Linked DNA regions of Homo sapiens: region 2 is linked to region 1. Evidence: fine-mapped expression QTL. A gene starts in region 1. The other region holds a variant in brackets. All regions are shown on one strand. Distances are from middle to middle. Region 1 holds the start of PGGT1B (protein geranylgeranyltransferase type I subunit beta). Region 2 overlaps PGGT1B (protein geranylgeranyltransferase type I subunit beta).

What was found. PIP is the estimated chance that this variant, and not a neighbour inherited with it, causes the effect.
Region 2: its variant is fine-mapped to the expression of PGGT1B in whole blood (TOPMed, PIP above 0.99).

The regions. Positions count from the first base shown.
Region 1 is chr5:115,259,190-115,267,529 of GRCh38, reverse strand. It overlaps PGGT1B (protein geranylgeranyltransferase type I subunit beta), which reads left to right and starts at 4,653. Exons shown (of 9, transcript NM_005023.4): 1 at 4,653-4,818. The coding sequence starts at 4,679. It overlaps CCDC112 (coiled-coil domain containing 112), which reads left to right. Exons shown (of 10, transcript NM_001040440.3): 10 at 1-340. It also overlaps the pseudogene RPS2P26. RefSeq lists enhancers at 4,535-4,584, 4,615-4,794.
Region 2 is chr5:115,210,049-115,218,388 of GRCh38, reverse strand. PGGT1B (protein geranylgeranyltransferase type I subunit beta) reads left to right here. Exons shown (of 9, transcript NM_005023.4): 8 at 1,416-1,524; 9 at 5,806-8,340. The coding sequence ends at 5,987. Among named protein-coding and RNA genes, the nearest start is that of TRIM36, 44 kb to the right of the region's middle. The variant A/G (reference allele first, on the strand shown) is at 4,999.

The sequences.
Region 1 (8,340 bases):
TTAAACCAAAATTTTGTAACTTTTATAACTTGGAGTTAAGTTAGCTTGAGTAACAAAAAGGTAAAGTGGTTTTTGTTTAGAGTTACGAAATGTTAGTACTTTTTCTATGTTTAACAAATTGGCAGTTTGTCAGTTATGACATTTTTGTGTAATAAATATTTTGTATTTGTTTGAAGCATGCTTTGTTTTATATAGAGAATATTTATTTTAAAAATATGTCTCTCATATACCCTATTAATTGTATTATTGATATAATCTTTTTGGTTTCCTTCAGCAATTCCAAATTTTCCTTCAGCCTTTCTGGATTTCACAGATTTATAAAATCTTTGTGTCTTTCACATCTTCCTGGCTAATGCAGTTTTCTTTTCTGCTTCTGTTTGCCTCAAAATAGGAAAATTCTTTGTTCTGAAACATCATCTGAAATAAGCCAGCTTTAAAATACTGTGATTTCTCTTGATGGCACTTAAAATGTTTTAGGTGGGGCATGGTGGCTCATGCTTGTAATCCCAGCACTTTCAGAGGTCAAGGTAGGAGAATTGAGGCCTGGAGTTTGACACTAGCCTGGGCAACACAGGGAGACCCTGTCTCTACAGAAAAAAAAAAAAAAAGTTTAATTAACTGGGTATGGTGGCACACACCTGTAGTCCCAGCTACTTGGGAGGATAAGGTGGGAGGATCACTTGAACCCAGGAGTTCCAGGTTGCAGTGAGCTACGATGGCACCACTCTACTCCAGCCTGGGTGAGAGAGAGACCCTGTCTCTAAAATGAATGAATGAAGGAATGAATGAATAAGATCTTTTAAAGCTGTTAGATTAACATATTTGGGCAAGAGTTAGTTCTTAAATTTCTAAACTTTTAGACATGAAAACACAATGTAATTGAATACAGTTCAACTTTTCATATTATAAAATATTCCTTTCTAACGTTATTTAATTTGTTCTCATAGGAAAGATACTATATACATAAAAACACAGGAAATTTATCTCTTATAAATCTTTTTTTATCTTAATCTTTCATTGTTTATCTTTATCTTTCATTGTTAATGGGATGCATTTAGGTTAAATGACTCAGTTAGAAAGGTACTATGAGTAGCGGTGAAAATCTTTTCTTATTTTACAGTTAATATTCAAAATAGATGGCTTCCAAATTTTAGAAACTGAATTCTGATTTGTACAGTTATTGGTGCAGAATGAGAAAATTGACATAAAAGATCCTTAAACAGGAGTGCTGATTTTGTTATCCAAAACTTTTTTGTAATGATTTGAAGTAGTTCAGAGATAAAATATAGAGGCTGGGTGCAGTGGCTCAGGCTTGTAATCCCAGCACTTTGGGAGGCCAAGGTGGGCGTATCACTTGAGGTCAGGAATTCAAGACCAGCCTGGCCAACATGGTAAAACCCCATCTCTACTAAAAATACAAAAATTAGCCTGGTGTGGTAGTTCACGCCTGTACTCCCAGCTACTTGGGAGGCTGAGGCAGGAGAATCGCTTGAACCCGGGAGGCGGAGGTTGCAGTGAGCTGAGATTGTGCCACTGTACTCCAGCCTGGGCAACAGAGTGAGACTCCATCTCAAAAAATAAATACATAAATAAAACACAGAGCAAGATGAGGAAATTAAAAGCAGAACTGAGAAGCTACAAGATACAGAAAATGTTTCTTACATATTGCTTTTTTACGTGTTGCTTTTTGTTGCACCGAAATGCAGCTTTCAAATTCCTGTATCCAAGGTAAGCATTCTGGATGATGTGATTCTTATGGCTTTGTTTTTTTATTTTTTTTTTAAATAAAGAAAAGTATGGAAGTTCCTCTGAAGAAATCAGTTTTTCTAGCTGAATCTGAAATAAATGATGAATTTATTATATAGATCCTTTATATAAAAGATGTAAGATAAACAAATATCTTCAGTTACAGACTTCATAGAAGTTACAGGTTCATAAACAAGATGTCAAATAAATATTTCTTATACTGGTTTAAAAAGTACATTAGCTTTTTCTCTGAGAAAACACCAAATCGCGGATGATGCCGGTGCAGCGGGGGACCTGGGAGGCCCGGAGGCCCGGGGGGCTCTGGGATGGGGAACTGGGGTCTCAGCCGGCCCTGGGATGGGGAACTCGTGTCGCGGCCATGGACGGGGCCGGGGCCAGCTGCAGAGCTCGTGGAGGCAAGACCAAGGACAAGGAGTAGATGGTTGTCACCAAGCTGGGCTGCCTGGTCAAGGACATGAAGATTAAGTCCCTGGAGTAGATCTATCTCTTCTCTCTGCCCATCAAGGAGTCTGTGATCATTGACTTTTTCCTGGGGCCTCTCTCAAGAAGGAGGTTTTGAAGACGTGCCAGTGCAGAAGCAGACCTGCACCGGCCAGAACACCAGGTTCAAGGCGTTTGTTGCCATCAGGGACAGTGGCCACACTGATCTGGGTGTTAAGTGCTCCAAGGAGGTGGCCACTGCCATCTGCGGGGCCATCATCCTGGCCAAGCTCTCCGTTGTGCCCATGCGCAGAGGCTACTGGGGGAACAAGATCGGCAAGCCCCACACCATCCCTTGCAAGGTGACAGGCTGCCACGGCTCTGTGCTGGCGCGGGTCATCCCTGCGCCCAGGAGCACTGGCATCGTCTCGGCCCCCATGGCCAAGAAGCTGCTGCTGATGGCAGCTATCAATGACTGCTACACCTCAGCCAGGGGCTGCACTGCCATCCTGGGCAACTTCGTCATGGTCATTTTTTATGCCATCTCTAAGGTCTACAGCAGGCTGAACCCTGACCTCTGGAAGGAGACTGTATTCACCAAGTCTCCCTATCAGGAATTCACTGACCACCTCCTCAAGACCCACACCAGAGTCTCCGTGCAGAGGACCCAGGCTCCAGCGGTGGCTACAACATCGGGTTGTACAAGAAAAATAAAATGAAGTAAGCCTGGAAACAAAAAAACTACATTAATAAGAAACATAGAAAAAACACTAAAGAAGAAATGTTATAAAGTACCCATAATTCCAGGGTAACTTTTTCAAAAAACATACCTACATATTTTTAAATTGTTACAGTCATACAGTACATATTAATTACTATGCTATAATTGCATTACACATTTTCGTACATTTCTACCTAATTCAAACATTATCATGTAATGGCTAAATAACACTCAATTATATAGATGTTCTATCATTCCCATTCTGTTATGCACATGCCAAAAATCTTGTAGGGATAAAATCACTCATGGAAAGCCTTTTACCGACCTAGGAGGCATTCTGTATTATCTCTGAATGAGTCCCACATTGCAAATTTTTCCTCTAGATTTGGATCAGATTGCTAGTCCTTGAGCTGAGAATCAGATGAAACATTTGGCTTCCCTAACTTAAGGGCCATGTTTATTAGAATTAATTTTCTGAGAATGTATAGAGTGTCCATAGCTGATTCCAGTAAGTTAAATGTGTATAAGACTCCACTTTAAAAATCTTCAGGCATTTGGGGGTATGTGTGCTAAGTGAGAGATCTTAATTTTAATAACAGTGGAAACTCCAGACTGGGCACACCTGAAGGGCAAGGACTGTGAGCTCCGTATTTGTAGGGAAGTACCGAGGACAGCCTAGAATCCGTCTGTGGCTGTTAAATGCGGCATTTTGTAAAGACATGCAGGAATACCTGTGAATAAGTAGTTAATAGTACCAAAAATTATTCAGAGCACTTTGGATTGTTGAATAAGTGTAAGATTACCCCAGCCCATAGAGTATAAGAATTACATTTTCTAAGAAAGCTAACAAAATTAAACCCAAAATTTTATTAGCTAAGTTGATCACAGGGAACCTAGTTTAGTTATATTATTGGGTGGATCCCCCCACCCGCTACTCAGGAATGCCTCATGAAAGTTTAAAGGGCATAGTATACCGGCTAAACAACTTAAATCCCTATTTTTGGAAAAAAGAACTAGAAGCATGTTTAAATTTTTTAGAATGCAGGTAATTGGAGAAGATATTGAGCTTATTTTGCTGTTGCAGATTGATGCACCATTGATTCTTGATAACACGTCGACTCAAGCAAAGTAAAATCTGTAAGATTTGTAAAAGAATGACGCAAGCAGTCATATATAGGTATGAATATGCATGTTGTATATGTTTGGGGGCATTATACACAGATTTTTAAGTGATTCCTGGTATCCAGAAAGGATTAAGATTAGGAAAGTCTCTGAGCTTTTGTAGTGTCAATAAACATTTATCTCCACTGGTTTGTTTTTCTGTTTCCCTAACCGTTCGGCTTAAAACTGGCCCTCCAAAAATGAATCTGTTAGCAAGTTTATACTGATCCATCCTCGTTTTCAGATATACCATCCTCAGGTTCTACAGAGCCAGAATTGTCTCAAAGCGTACTTGATGCTTTTGACCTTGCGCTTCCCAAGATAAAAATTCTGACGGAGGGATTTGTGGACTTGATTTTCACAAGGCCTGCGAGGTGTTTACAAGCCTCGAGGGCTTTGAGTAGAAAAGGTAGGGTCATGCGCTAGCTAGGGAGATATCGGAGAGAGGAAGTGCTGCACAGGACCCAGATGATAGCGGTTTCAAATACTGGCTTAGTCTGCGGCGGGCGCAGGTCCCCTCACCCGGCACCCTGTGGTTCAGCACAGGAGGGTTCTTTCTCTCCGCGGGCACTGATTCCGGGTCGCGGCGGACGTCGCTTCCGGAGCAGCATGGCGGCCACTGAGGATGAGAGGCTAGCAGGGAGCGGTGAGGGAGAGCGGCTGGATTTCTTACGGGATCGGCACGTGCGATTTTTCCAGCGCTGCCTCCAGGTTTTGCCGGAGCGCTATTCTTCACTCGAGACAAGCAGGTAACTCGTGGCACAGTCAGCCAGGCTGGCACAAGGCCCGGGCTCCAGCGGAAAGGCGCGGCGGAGTCGGACCGCAAACTGGGCGCCGGAAGGGGGCTGCGCGGCCGCCCAGTTGGCACTGACTGGTTTCAAGTGGGCTTGAGGTTACCCCCACTCTCCCGCCGTACGGTGGGAAGGTCTGGAAGGCTGTAGGTCGAGGGCTGTGGCATCTCCAGTTTCCGGCTTTTTCACTTCCCTTTTCTTCTGGCAACTCTGAGCTGCTTTTTTACCCGCTCCCATAGCCTGTCACTTTGCCTCATTACTTCCGAGTGTAAAAGGAAAAGGACAAAGTTTGTCGTCGTATTTTTAGATGAATACTTCTGTGCATCCTTGTCCTCTCTAAAGTCATTAACTCTTAATAGAGTGTCTGTATGGTGTTTTATGTGTAGGAGCGGCAGAGAACCTCTAAGGTCTTAGAAACTTTGTGGGAACTATAAATCTAATGGTAGGCGAAAGAGGTGTGGTGTTGCGTGAAGCAGCCTGTTAAAAGTATCGCAATAGCTGAAGAGTGTGGTGCGGCAGAGACTAAGCGACTTCATTTACAGTAAAAGCTGGGGATGAGAAGAAAGAAAGGAGAAGGCAATCTTTGCTCCGCATTGCTGTGTTTTGAAGTGAAGCTCAAAAGCTGCTTGAGACTGGATGGGAGGAAAGAGCGGCTTGTTTTTGCTGTGTTCTTTCCCCACGTTTTCCAAATTCTGAGTTGCTGGTGTATTTTGAACACTGCATGACCGGATCAGTTTGGGGAGCTTTGCAGATTACTTCTGCACACTTGGTCAAGAACCACATTATGGTAGGTGCCAGAGTACAGCTGAACAAGACAAGCATTTGTATAGAGTTCTGTGCTATATGTTAGTGTAGTGTTCATAGGAGTATATAGACAGGCATGTACATAATCCAGATATCTTTAGAGAGGCCTTCCTTAAACACCCTTCCTAAAGGGACCACTTCCAATGACCACCTCACATTACGTATGTATTGGTTTATTTGTTTAATGTCTTTCTATTACACTGGATTATAAACTTCACAAAGGTAACATTTTCGTCTATCTTGTTTACCTCTATACTTAGGACTGGGCTGCCCTGTCCAATCTGGTAGCCACTAGCCACATTTGGCTATTTTGATTTGAATTAATTAAATCAAATTAAAAATTAAGTGATTCTTTTGGTAGTAGCCACCACATTTCAAGTACCCAGTTGCCATATTGGCCAGTGGCAATTGTTTCTATTTCAACATTTGCAACAGCTTAGTCCTTTTGGTCAACATTGCACTAGGACCTTAAATAGTACCTGGTATCTGAGAAGCACTAAGAAATATTTGTTGAATAATGTGAGCTGAGCCCTGAAGGATGAACAGATTCTCACAAAAGAAAGAGTGAAACGTTTATATTCCTTCCTCCTCTCATAGGTGTTGATCGATTAGCAGAGCCTATACCTTCACTGAAAGATTCAGATTTCCAAACCGAAAGGTTATGATTGTAGTGATATGAGATGTTTTAAAATGTTGATAAATTGTTTATATCTTAATAGGGATTAATTTTATGTGAATTCAAAGCTTTTAGATAAAAAGTCTTCCATCCTGTTTTTGTTATTGATACATAATGTGCATATTTATCGTATACATACACTGCTTAGATAGATGCAGTGTATAAGTCCTGTGAGCTGATTAAATTGTGATTGTTAAACAGTTGAACTTTGCTTGCAGCTATCACTATAAGTCTGTGATTTAATTTTCAAAATGCCAATGTGTTTGGCCTGTTTTATAAAATTCCAGCTTGGACAAATCCATATAGAATAATGCACATTGGCATTAAACTGTGTAATTCTGTTCACAGCATAAGTAAAACAGCACAAATTTTCTGACTTATTTAACTTTAGTATGAGCATAGGATCGACACCAGGTGTTATATAACACCTTGGTGCATTGGTTAAGCAATATTGTATCCTTTTTTGTCTAATGTTTGTCATATGAATAGAATTTTTACATCATTTTGGTTTTCTTATAGCCTAGTTAACCGCATTTAAGATAACTGCATATGTCAGTTTCTGTAGTGATTTTAAGTTTTTCTCTTTCCTAACTCACAGACTTTATTTTCTTTAGCACTAAGTTCTTTTGTGGTGCATGTGATTCATAACTGACTTTAAAATGCTTGTGAAGAAACTCCAACCTTTTCAGCAAAGGTGACCGGTCACAAAGTTTCTGCTGATCTTTAAGACAAAACAGTACATTGGGCAAGCCACAACTCTTACCTGGTATTGCAGTTAAATTCCACAGTCATTCATAGAGTGCCTCCCCATGTGTCTAGGTACAGGTATACAGTGTTAAACTAATGATTCAGGTGTTCCTCTGTTCGTTTCTTTTTACCAATAGGTATGAAAAAGCTTTGAGAAGGCTAATATTAGACTGGATATTTAGACACTTATTTTCAGATTCACCATTTTGGCAAAATTACTCTTATTTTCTTGTTTCTTTTAGCCTGACCAATAGGAATAATTTTTACTTTTCTAGTGACAATGACTTTATGAAAATAAAGAGTGTATTGTCTGCGGTTTCATCAGAGATTTTTCTTTTATATTGACTTCTTAAAATGATAGTTACTAGTTTATAATCCAAGTGAATATTAAATCTTGGGTTGGGAGCTTTATCAATTACCAGGTTTCTTTTATAAGTAGTTTAGGGAGTTTAGTGTGGTTATGAGTTATTCTTGCCATTTGTATTTGGGTAATAGGAATTAGAGTAGTCCTTTTTATTAAGGAACAAAGTAGTGACAATTTTCTGTTATTTTTACAGTCACCTCTTCTAGAAGAAGGGTTTAGGCAGTTAGCTTTTATTTCACAAAGCATTTACAATCTAGCTAGTCTTTGTATTCTCATGTCCCTCTATTTTCCCCTGTGTATCCTGTGTTGTAACCTCTCTCCTGCCTCCCATTCTGCAACTACTTTGTTCTTTCGTTTCCTCCCTTATCTTTTTTTTTTTTTTTTTTTTTTTTTGAGACAGTCTCACTCTGTCACCAGGCTGGAGTGCGGTGGCACCATCTCTCCTCACTGCAGCCTCCGCCTCCTGGGTTCAAGCGATTCTCCTGCCTCAGCCTCTCAAGTAGCTGGGACTACAGGTGTGTGCCACCACGCTCAGCTAATTTTTTGTATTTTTAGTAGAGATGCGGTTTCACCATGTTGGCCAGGATGGTCTTGGTCTCTTGGCCTTGTGATCCGCCCGCCTCGGCCTCCCAAAGTGCTGGGATTACAGGCGTGAGCCACCGTGCCCGGCCCCCTTATCTTAAATATATCACAGTCTAGCAGTACATCTTTCAAAGTGTAGTGGTGGGAGACTCTAAGTAATGGCTTGTATGTGCTTTCAAAAATGCACATACCTGGGCCCCTTCCCAGACCTTCATTGGATTCTGTGTGGGCCTTGGGAGTCTGCATTATAACACGCATCTCAGGTGGTTCTAAAGCAGGCTAAAGTTAGAGACTGTTTGCCTTATAG
Region 2 (8,340 bases), 49 kb after region 1:
ATATAATGCTTAAATTGTCCTATCTTTAGTCTATAAGAACCCTTTCAAGTTGTCCCAAGTCTTTTTTATTTGACGTCAGTAGTCTTTGACAGCTTTCTGAAGGCAACCACTTTTAAACTTTTTAAAAATGTTTTAATTCTTGTGGACATTACCATAACTTTAAATCACAGACTGACTTCTTATCACCTTTAGACATTATTGATGATTCCCAACTATGAGAAATTAAGATTTAGCCTCTCACTTTTCCAACAAATTGTTACCCGTTATAGTTAGTTCTGAATATTTTCCTCATCTTCTACCTTCCAATGCTATATAAGGTTACCTTTATTTTTATAATGTTAAGTTAGGACACATTCATATATTTGTTCAATATTAATAATCACATCTTTCAGCCTTTGCCTATAGGTTGATTCTAAAATTTAAAAACCAGTAATCAACACTTATTATGGGATAGTGAAAATATTGTTTATTGCTAAGCCAAGTGCAGTGTTACTATTATAATTTTTTCATTTTTATGTAATGACCAGTGTGCCACTGATGGAAAATATTCCTAACATCAAGATTCAAAAAAGTCTTTTTCCTTATATTTTATTAATTAAATCAATGTAAATGAATAAATTTGTTTCCTGTTTGTACCATAACTTTCTTATGAGTTTAGCTTTTCTTTTTGAGAAATAATGCTTCTTCATTAGTCACTAAAAGCTGTGGCTCTCTCTGGTTCATTAACATATATTAAATTGCTTTGTATCATCAGAAATGTCTTGAACCCTCTTACCTACTGTGCACCTCATCTTGAACTTCACAGTATTATTTATTTATTTGTATTTTACTTTTATGGGGTCTTGAGAGAAAAGCCAAGTACATGTCCTAAATCATTAAAAACTATATAGTTTTTTATGTTGCAATCATTTTTGTCTTACCTTTTTCTTTCCTAATTAAAGAGCTATACTTTTTTACTATTTTCAAAACTGTCTGTAGCATCTGGTTAGTAATTTTTGTTTGCTCTTTTTTTAAAAAATATTTTTAATTCCAGTTACTACTAGTTTATAACTAATAGCTCAAGAGCTTATCATAAGAGTTAAAATATGGGTAGATAAAATTGTACTTTTTAAAATGACTGATTATGTTGAGTGGATTCGAGTTGTCTTTTGAATTTAGCTTAATGTGATTTAAAGGGTTCAGTTGGCCTGGTTCAGAAGAAGGAAATAGAGAGTCGAGAAAAGGAGAGTAGATTTGATAAGAAAATTAAAAAGTTAATGTGATTTACTCATTTCAAAAGTGCTCAAGGCCCCAGAGACTTGGTCTGAGCACCTTAGCTAAAGAAAAGCATATCTAAATGACACGTATCTGAAATTTGAGCCAAAGGTTGATATGAGTTTTATGTCAGTAAATTTTTATTTGTCATGTCATTTCAGCTTCTAAAAATTTTCCAATACACTAACTTTGAGAAAAATAGAAATTACATCTTATCAACTCAAGATCGCCTTGTAGGGGGATTTGCCAAGTGGCCAGACAGTCATCCAGGTAATTATTTTCTTTGTGAATCAGAACAACCTTTATTTCCTGAATAGATCTTCAAGCATCTTTATCAGAAAAGGCATATGATAGAAAATATATCCAGTTGCAAAGTTACATTAAATAATATTTTTTAAAAGGTATATTGTGTAAGCTTAGGATAAATTTAGGGTATTAGAGAGTATAAATGAAAGAGTTTATTATCAAGATGCATGGGAATAGTGTGCATTTTTTCCCAAATATTTTACTTAGTAATGTTTTATTTCATTTGCAGCAATAATGTAGATGGTCTGAATGGGTCCTTTCCAAAGAAGAGAATTATTTAGGCCATCCAAAGCCGTTAGGATTATTAGTCATGACTTGAACTAAGTATAATAAATTACTCCCAATCCTGAAGGGAATCAGTTCTTACTCTTTTCAGAAGTCATTAAATAGGCCGGGCACAGTGGCTCATGCCTGTAACCCCAACACTTTGGGAGGTCAAGGCAGGTGGATCACTTGAGGTCAGGAGTTCAAGACCAGCCTGGCCAACGTGTTGAAACCCCGACTCTACTAAAAATACAAAAATCAGCCAGGTGTGGTGATGCGTGCCTGTAGTCCCAGCTATGCGGGAGTCTGAGGCAGGAGAGTCACTTAAACCCAGGAAGCAGAGGTTCCAGTGAGCCGAGATTGCACCACTGCCCTCCAGCCTGTGTGACAGAGCGAGACTCTTTGTCTCAAAAAAAAAAGTCATTAAATAAAATATTTCAAATCCTGAATATATGTGTTTCTCACTTCCCATACTCTTGTTCTCCAAATTTCAACAGATTCAGACAATATAAATGGCATGGCACTCAAGGCCCTTCCAAAATTTGGCTCCTCTCCCACCTCTAGCATCATTCTGCAGCCTACACCTCACCCGACATATGTTTTCACCTCCAGCAAAATGAGTCTATATACAGCTTCCCTATAAAAATCCATTTAAGTGTGTTTTGAAATAATTTCAAACACTGACACTTTTGATAAGCAAGTAGTTAAAGAATTAGTTACAAATATGAAACTAGACACAAGGAATGATTGTTTTTGCCAGTATTGCAATAGAGTCGTGGTTTTTATTATCAGCCTGGAAAGTGCCTCATCAACTCATCTTCCATCACAGAACTGCTGTGGTTGGAATGTGTGATTGAATCAGAATATAAATAAGGAGCTCATGAAATCAATTTTTGTATTTGAAATGAGCAGGAATATTTCCTTACACCCCTACTTGCCTATATTTTCATATAAAACATGCTTCCTAGGCCAGGAGTTTTGGCTCACGCCTGTAATCCCAACAGTTTGGGAGGCTGAGGTGGGCGGATCACTTGAGGCAAGGAGTTTGAGACTAGCCTGGCCACATGGTGAAACATTGCCTCTACTAAAAATACAATAATTAGCCAGGCGTGGTGGTGGGTGCCTGTAATCCCAACTACTTGGGAGGCTGGGGCAGAAGAATTGCCTGAACCTGGGAGGCAGAGGTTGCAGTGAGCCAAGGTCACACCACTGCACTCCAGCCTGGGCAACAGAGCAAGAGTACATCTCAAAAAATAAAATAAAATAAATGGCCGGGTGCAGTGGCTCACGCCTGTAATCCCAGCTTTGGGAGGCTGATGCTGGTGAATCACTTGAAGTCAGGAGTTGAAGACCAGCCTGGTCAATATGGCGAGACCCCGTCTCTACCAAAAATACAAAAATAGCCAGGCATGGTGGTGCACACCTGTAGTCCCAGCTACTCAGGAGGCTGAGGCAGGAGAATTGCTTGAACCCAGGAGGTGGAGGTTGCAGTGAGCCAAGATCTCACCATTGCACTCCAGCCTGGGCGACAGAGCGAGACTCTGTCTCAATCAATCAATCAGTAGTAAAACATGTCTTCTTAGAGAAAGTGTACATTGCTTTCAAAGTCGTAAGCCAAAGTGTGTCTTCAGAAGTTAATTTCTCAAGCAAAATAATATCTTGAAATTTTTGATATCTCTAGTGCCTCAAAACTGAGAATTATTTTGGTCTTCATTCCATTTTTTAAACCAGTGCAGGGTACTGTTTTAACAAATAATGGGAGTAGGGAAATGACAGTCTCTTAGGAAACATTTCTTGTATAAACATACTTGAAATACATTCAGTGTTTCCAATAGCTTTTTTAAAAGAAAGTTCTTGAGGCTTTTTCCGGAGAGTTCAGTTGCTAACTTTAACATTTGTGTAAATATTTGGATGTACTACTTACTTTTTACAGATACATTACAATGTTTTCAGAGTATGCAATAGAAAGCATAGAAGGGCTTTGCTAAATTGAATTTATGTGTAAAGATCTGGTCCCAGAATCTTTAATCATTTTAACAAGATTCTTTAAAATTAAGCTTATTCTTCATTCTAGTGAATTTAGTGGCAAATTTGATACAAAGGGATTTTATATACATTTATGAAAGAAACTTCAAAAGAATAACCTTTTATTGTGGAGTAAATATATATTTCAACATCTAAAGTGCTTTATTATGGAGTAAACATATAGTTCCACATCTAAAGTGCTTGTACGTTGCCACTTACAGATAAGGAGTTTTTTTAAAAACACAATTTGAGGCTTCAAACAATTGAGTTCTGATCTCATTGGCTGTTACAAAAATCTTTTTGAGAAACAAATAAGTTTTATTTGTTACTTTACCCAGAGAGATTTTAGTTTTACACAGTTCTATTTTATGTTATTATAGATATATATTTTCTGTTGTACTTTTTCCTAGAAAAGTTTCCTAGTTTCTAGAAAACAAAGCTTAATGTTGCTTTGTACCCTTTGTAGTTTTAGAATAACTATATGGATGTAATATGACAGGTGAAATCAAGTTTATTTTTTATAGTCTGAAAGTCAAAGGAAAGTGAGCCAGAAGAAACCTAAGTATTTTCTGAAAAGGCCTAAAAGGTGATCAACATGGGCCTCCATTAGTTAAATAACATTTTCACAATGGCATTGAGTAAGCACAGCTATTTGTCATTTCTGTTTTGAAAAATAAGTGATACTGTTGTAAGTAAAGCTTTTTCTTTAACTCTTTTGACAAAGTTTGATGTGGTAAGATGTGTTGAACTTTTTGTTGTTGTTGTTTTGAGACAGGGTTTCATTATTTTGCCCAGGCTAGAGTGCAGTGATATAATCATGCCTCACTGCAGCCTCAACCTCCCTAGGCTCAGGTGAGCCTCCCACCTCAGCCTCCCGAGTAGCCGGAACTACAGGCGCACGCCACCATACCTGGTAATTTTTGTATTTTTTGTAGAGATGGAGCTTCACCGTATTGCCCAGGCTGGTATCGAACTCCTGTGGCTCAAGGAATATGCCCTTCTCGGCCTCCCAAAGTGCTGGGATTACAGGTGTGAGCCACCACACCCAGCCTGTTTTGAACTTTAATAGCTCTTAAGGCCATAAATGTCGGCCAATTCAAAAATAGAAAAAAATTTTGACTGGTACAAAACTGTCTTTTTAATGTTCCT[A/G]TAACTGCAAAGCTCTGAGCTCTTCAGAAGTCTACATAAGACTCCTAGGCAGGAATGGCCATGTGATTTCATTGGCCACTTTAATAGAAGAGGATCGCTGCCCCCTGAAAGATGGGAAACTAGTGAGCCAGTGCAGAATTGTCATGGTATGAGCACTCATATTATTTCAACCAAATAGAATGTGAGTTTGTTTTTATTGTCAGATCAGATATTTTTACAATGACTGACATTACCCTAAATAGGAGGATTAAATATGGCACAGCATTCCAGAATGGATTATTTTTGCATAAGCTCCTTTTATTTAACACAATGTTAGGATAGTACTGCATATGGTTTAGGAACTTTCAGAGGTAAAACGTGGAGCGAGGGATATTGCAACTTAGATTCAGAGTTTTGTTTTCGTTTTAAAGAAAAAAAAACTTAATGATATAGCATTGAAGCTACTCGTTTTCATGTTCTCTAGTAAGCAAGAGGGGAAACTCCCCAAAGTGAGAAGTCTTACATATGACTGCTGCTACTCCTGTCTTTTAATCACAGAGGTTATGGACAGTATCAGCTCTTCAGCTGGAAACTGTTTTCCTTTGTTAATGATATTTTCATGAATAAAATATTTTATTTTGATCATCTGAGTTTTTTTTTTAATTGGTGTTTGAGGCTTTGAGAAAGCAAATATTTTTAAAACTATATTAGCATTTCTCTAAACTTACTTTTAATGGAGTGATGGGCTGGTAAATATGTGGCTAAAATATTCTGTAGAATGTACAAGTAAGAATGCCTATTATGATGTTTTAAATGCCTTCTTTTCAGATGCTTTGCATGCATACTTTGGGATCTGTGGCCTGTCACTAATGGAGGAAAGTGGAATTTGTAAAGTTCATCCTGCTCTGAATGTAAGCACACGGACTTCTGAACGCCTTCTAGATCTCCATCAAAGCTGGAAAACCAAGGACTCTAAACAATGCTCAGAGAATGTACATATCTCCACATGACTGATTTTAGATTGGGAGGGTGGGGGGATTTGTAGCATAACTGTAGCTCAAGTTTAAAAGCCATGTATAACCAAGTGTGCTCTTTTTTTAAAAGGTAGAGTCTTACAATCAAATCTCCTGCTGATTTCACTTTGGGATATGGTCTTGAGCCAGTAATCTTTATACTGGGTTTCAAGAAAATCTTTGTTGAAGTTTGAACCACAACTTTGTCGTGGTTCTTAAATGTTTATACTGTATTTCTAAGAAGTTGTTTGAGGCAAATTAACTGTATGTGTGTAGGTTATCTTTTTAAAAACTCTTCAGTGCAAATTGTATCTTATTATAAAATGGACACAAATTTTCAAGTTTACACTTCATATAGCATTGATAATCTTCAGGTGAACACTTAGTGATCATTTAAAAAGCTCACTGCTGATCGTAGAAAATTTGCTTTAATTAATTAAGTATCTGGGATTATTCTTTGAAAACAGATGACCATAATTTTTTTTAAAGAAGAGTGACTTATTTTGTCTTATTCTTAAGTAAAGTGTGCCAATTAAACCTGTGTGGCCTATATAAATGAAGTTAATAACTTCATAGTAAGAATAAATAGGTTTAACTAATGTGATAGTTTTCTAAAAGGAGATTGTTTGAAGACAACTATTATGTAACTGAGGGAAAAGCAACTTAACTGTATGTGATTGTGAATGAGAAAGTTTTGTGCTATGTGGGTCATTTATCTAGACATTGCTGTGGTGAATACCAGTTATGTTTGATTTTATTCTCAAATCATTAGTTGCCTTTTTTTTTTTTTTTTTTTTTTTGCTTTCTAGGAAGAAAACAATCTTTTTTATCTAGAAGGAAAGATACTTTGTGTTTTCATTTTTAGCCATTTGAAGTTTTTAATTTATTGCCCCCAGTGTGTTAGCTGCTCTAATTTCAAACTAATACTTTTCTAATTTTTTTCAAATTAAATAAGTAAAAAATACAAAAACAGAACCATTCAAACAGATTCAGTGGTGTAACTCAATACATGGTCATTTTTATTCTCATATTTTCAGGTAAGTGAAAGGGAAATGCGACCATTTAGAGGGTAAGAAATAGGGTTTTGTTTTTGTTCATTGTTTTGTTTTAAGTCTATGAACTAGCTAATTATAAAGGAGGTAGTATAAAAACTCTTCATTAGTAATTAATTTATCAATAACTCATATCCGTTACTTGCTCAGTGACATTCAGAACTATTGCGTCTAGTACTGAAATGGGGAAAGAAATCTCTTCACTAAAGGAGTTGGCTTTAAGTTAGTCTTGGTGATAATAAATGTTGAAATACAAGTATCAGTATAAAAACTGGATTACTGGTATCACTGTTTAGGCATTGTAATACTTTAAATGTTATCTTTTTTTCTAAATCAGAGGGAAAAAAATGTTGTGAAATAACAGTCCTTCCCAAGGGAAACACTGTGTACTTGGAGAAATGATTGATTTATTATTGGCATGCTTAGTTTTAAACCTGAGTTTGCCAACTGTATGTTTTTTAATTAGAAATAAAATAAATCTTCTGATGGTGGGGGAAAAAGTAAGCTTAATAACAGATGTTATCCGTCTATGGGTTATTCCAGTTGCTACTATTTAAATCCTGGCAGATTAAGACATCCATATCTCAAACTAAGTCATCTCTTAGACATTGGAAGTTAAAGTAGCATATATATAATGGCTTTAGGACTATATAAAAAGCCCAAATTGTTTTTTCTGTATCACCAAGAAAGGTTAGAAGGCAATAAAGGTAGTAACAGTGATTTTATTCATAAATGTTAGAGAAAAATTCCAATCTAAAAGTATTTCATAAGGCTAAATATTTTCTAACTCCTGATAATTTAATACCATAAGATTATAAATTTTAGTATGCTTCTAATTGATACACTTGTGGGAGACTTTCTTGTGAAACTTTATGGACTAGTAAATGTTCACATTCCACAGCAACTGAATTGACCAGAAAATAGCAGCCCAGTGTGAATTGTGGAGAAACTATTTCTAACTTTTCTAAATAGTTATTTACAAGAAAAGCATTTATCGATTAAATAAATTATAAGCAATATTTCACATATACACTTTATTCCTTAACAGGAGCGATGTAATGAGGGAAAATACGAAGTCCGAAATCTCAAAAAGCTCTGTTACCTACTCTATACTTGTCTCCTTCCCGCCCCCTAATTTTGTGGCATTTTTTTTTTAGAAGGTAGGAGGAGGAGCTTTATTTTGAGCATCTGTGTACAAATGAGATTAATCAGATCATATGGCCTAATTTAACCTGTTTATCATTTCAGTGTTTTTAGATTTGATCTATAATATATATGTGTTATTAGATCTTTAGTTA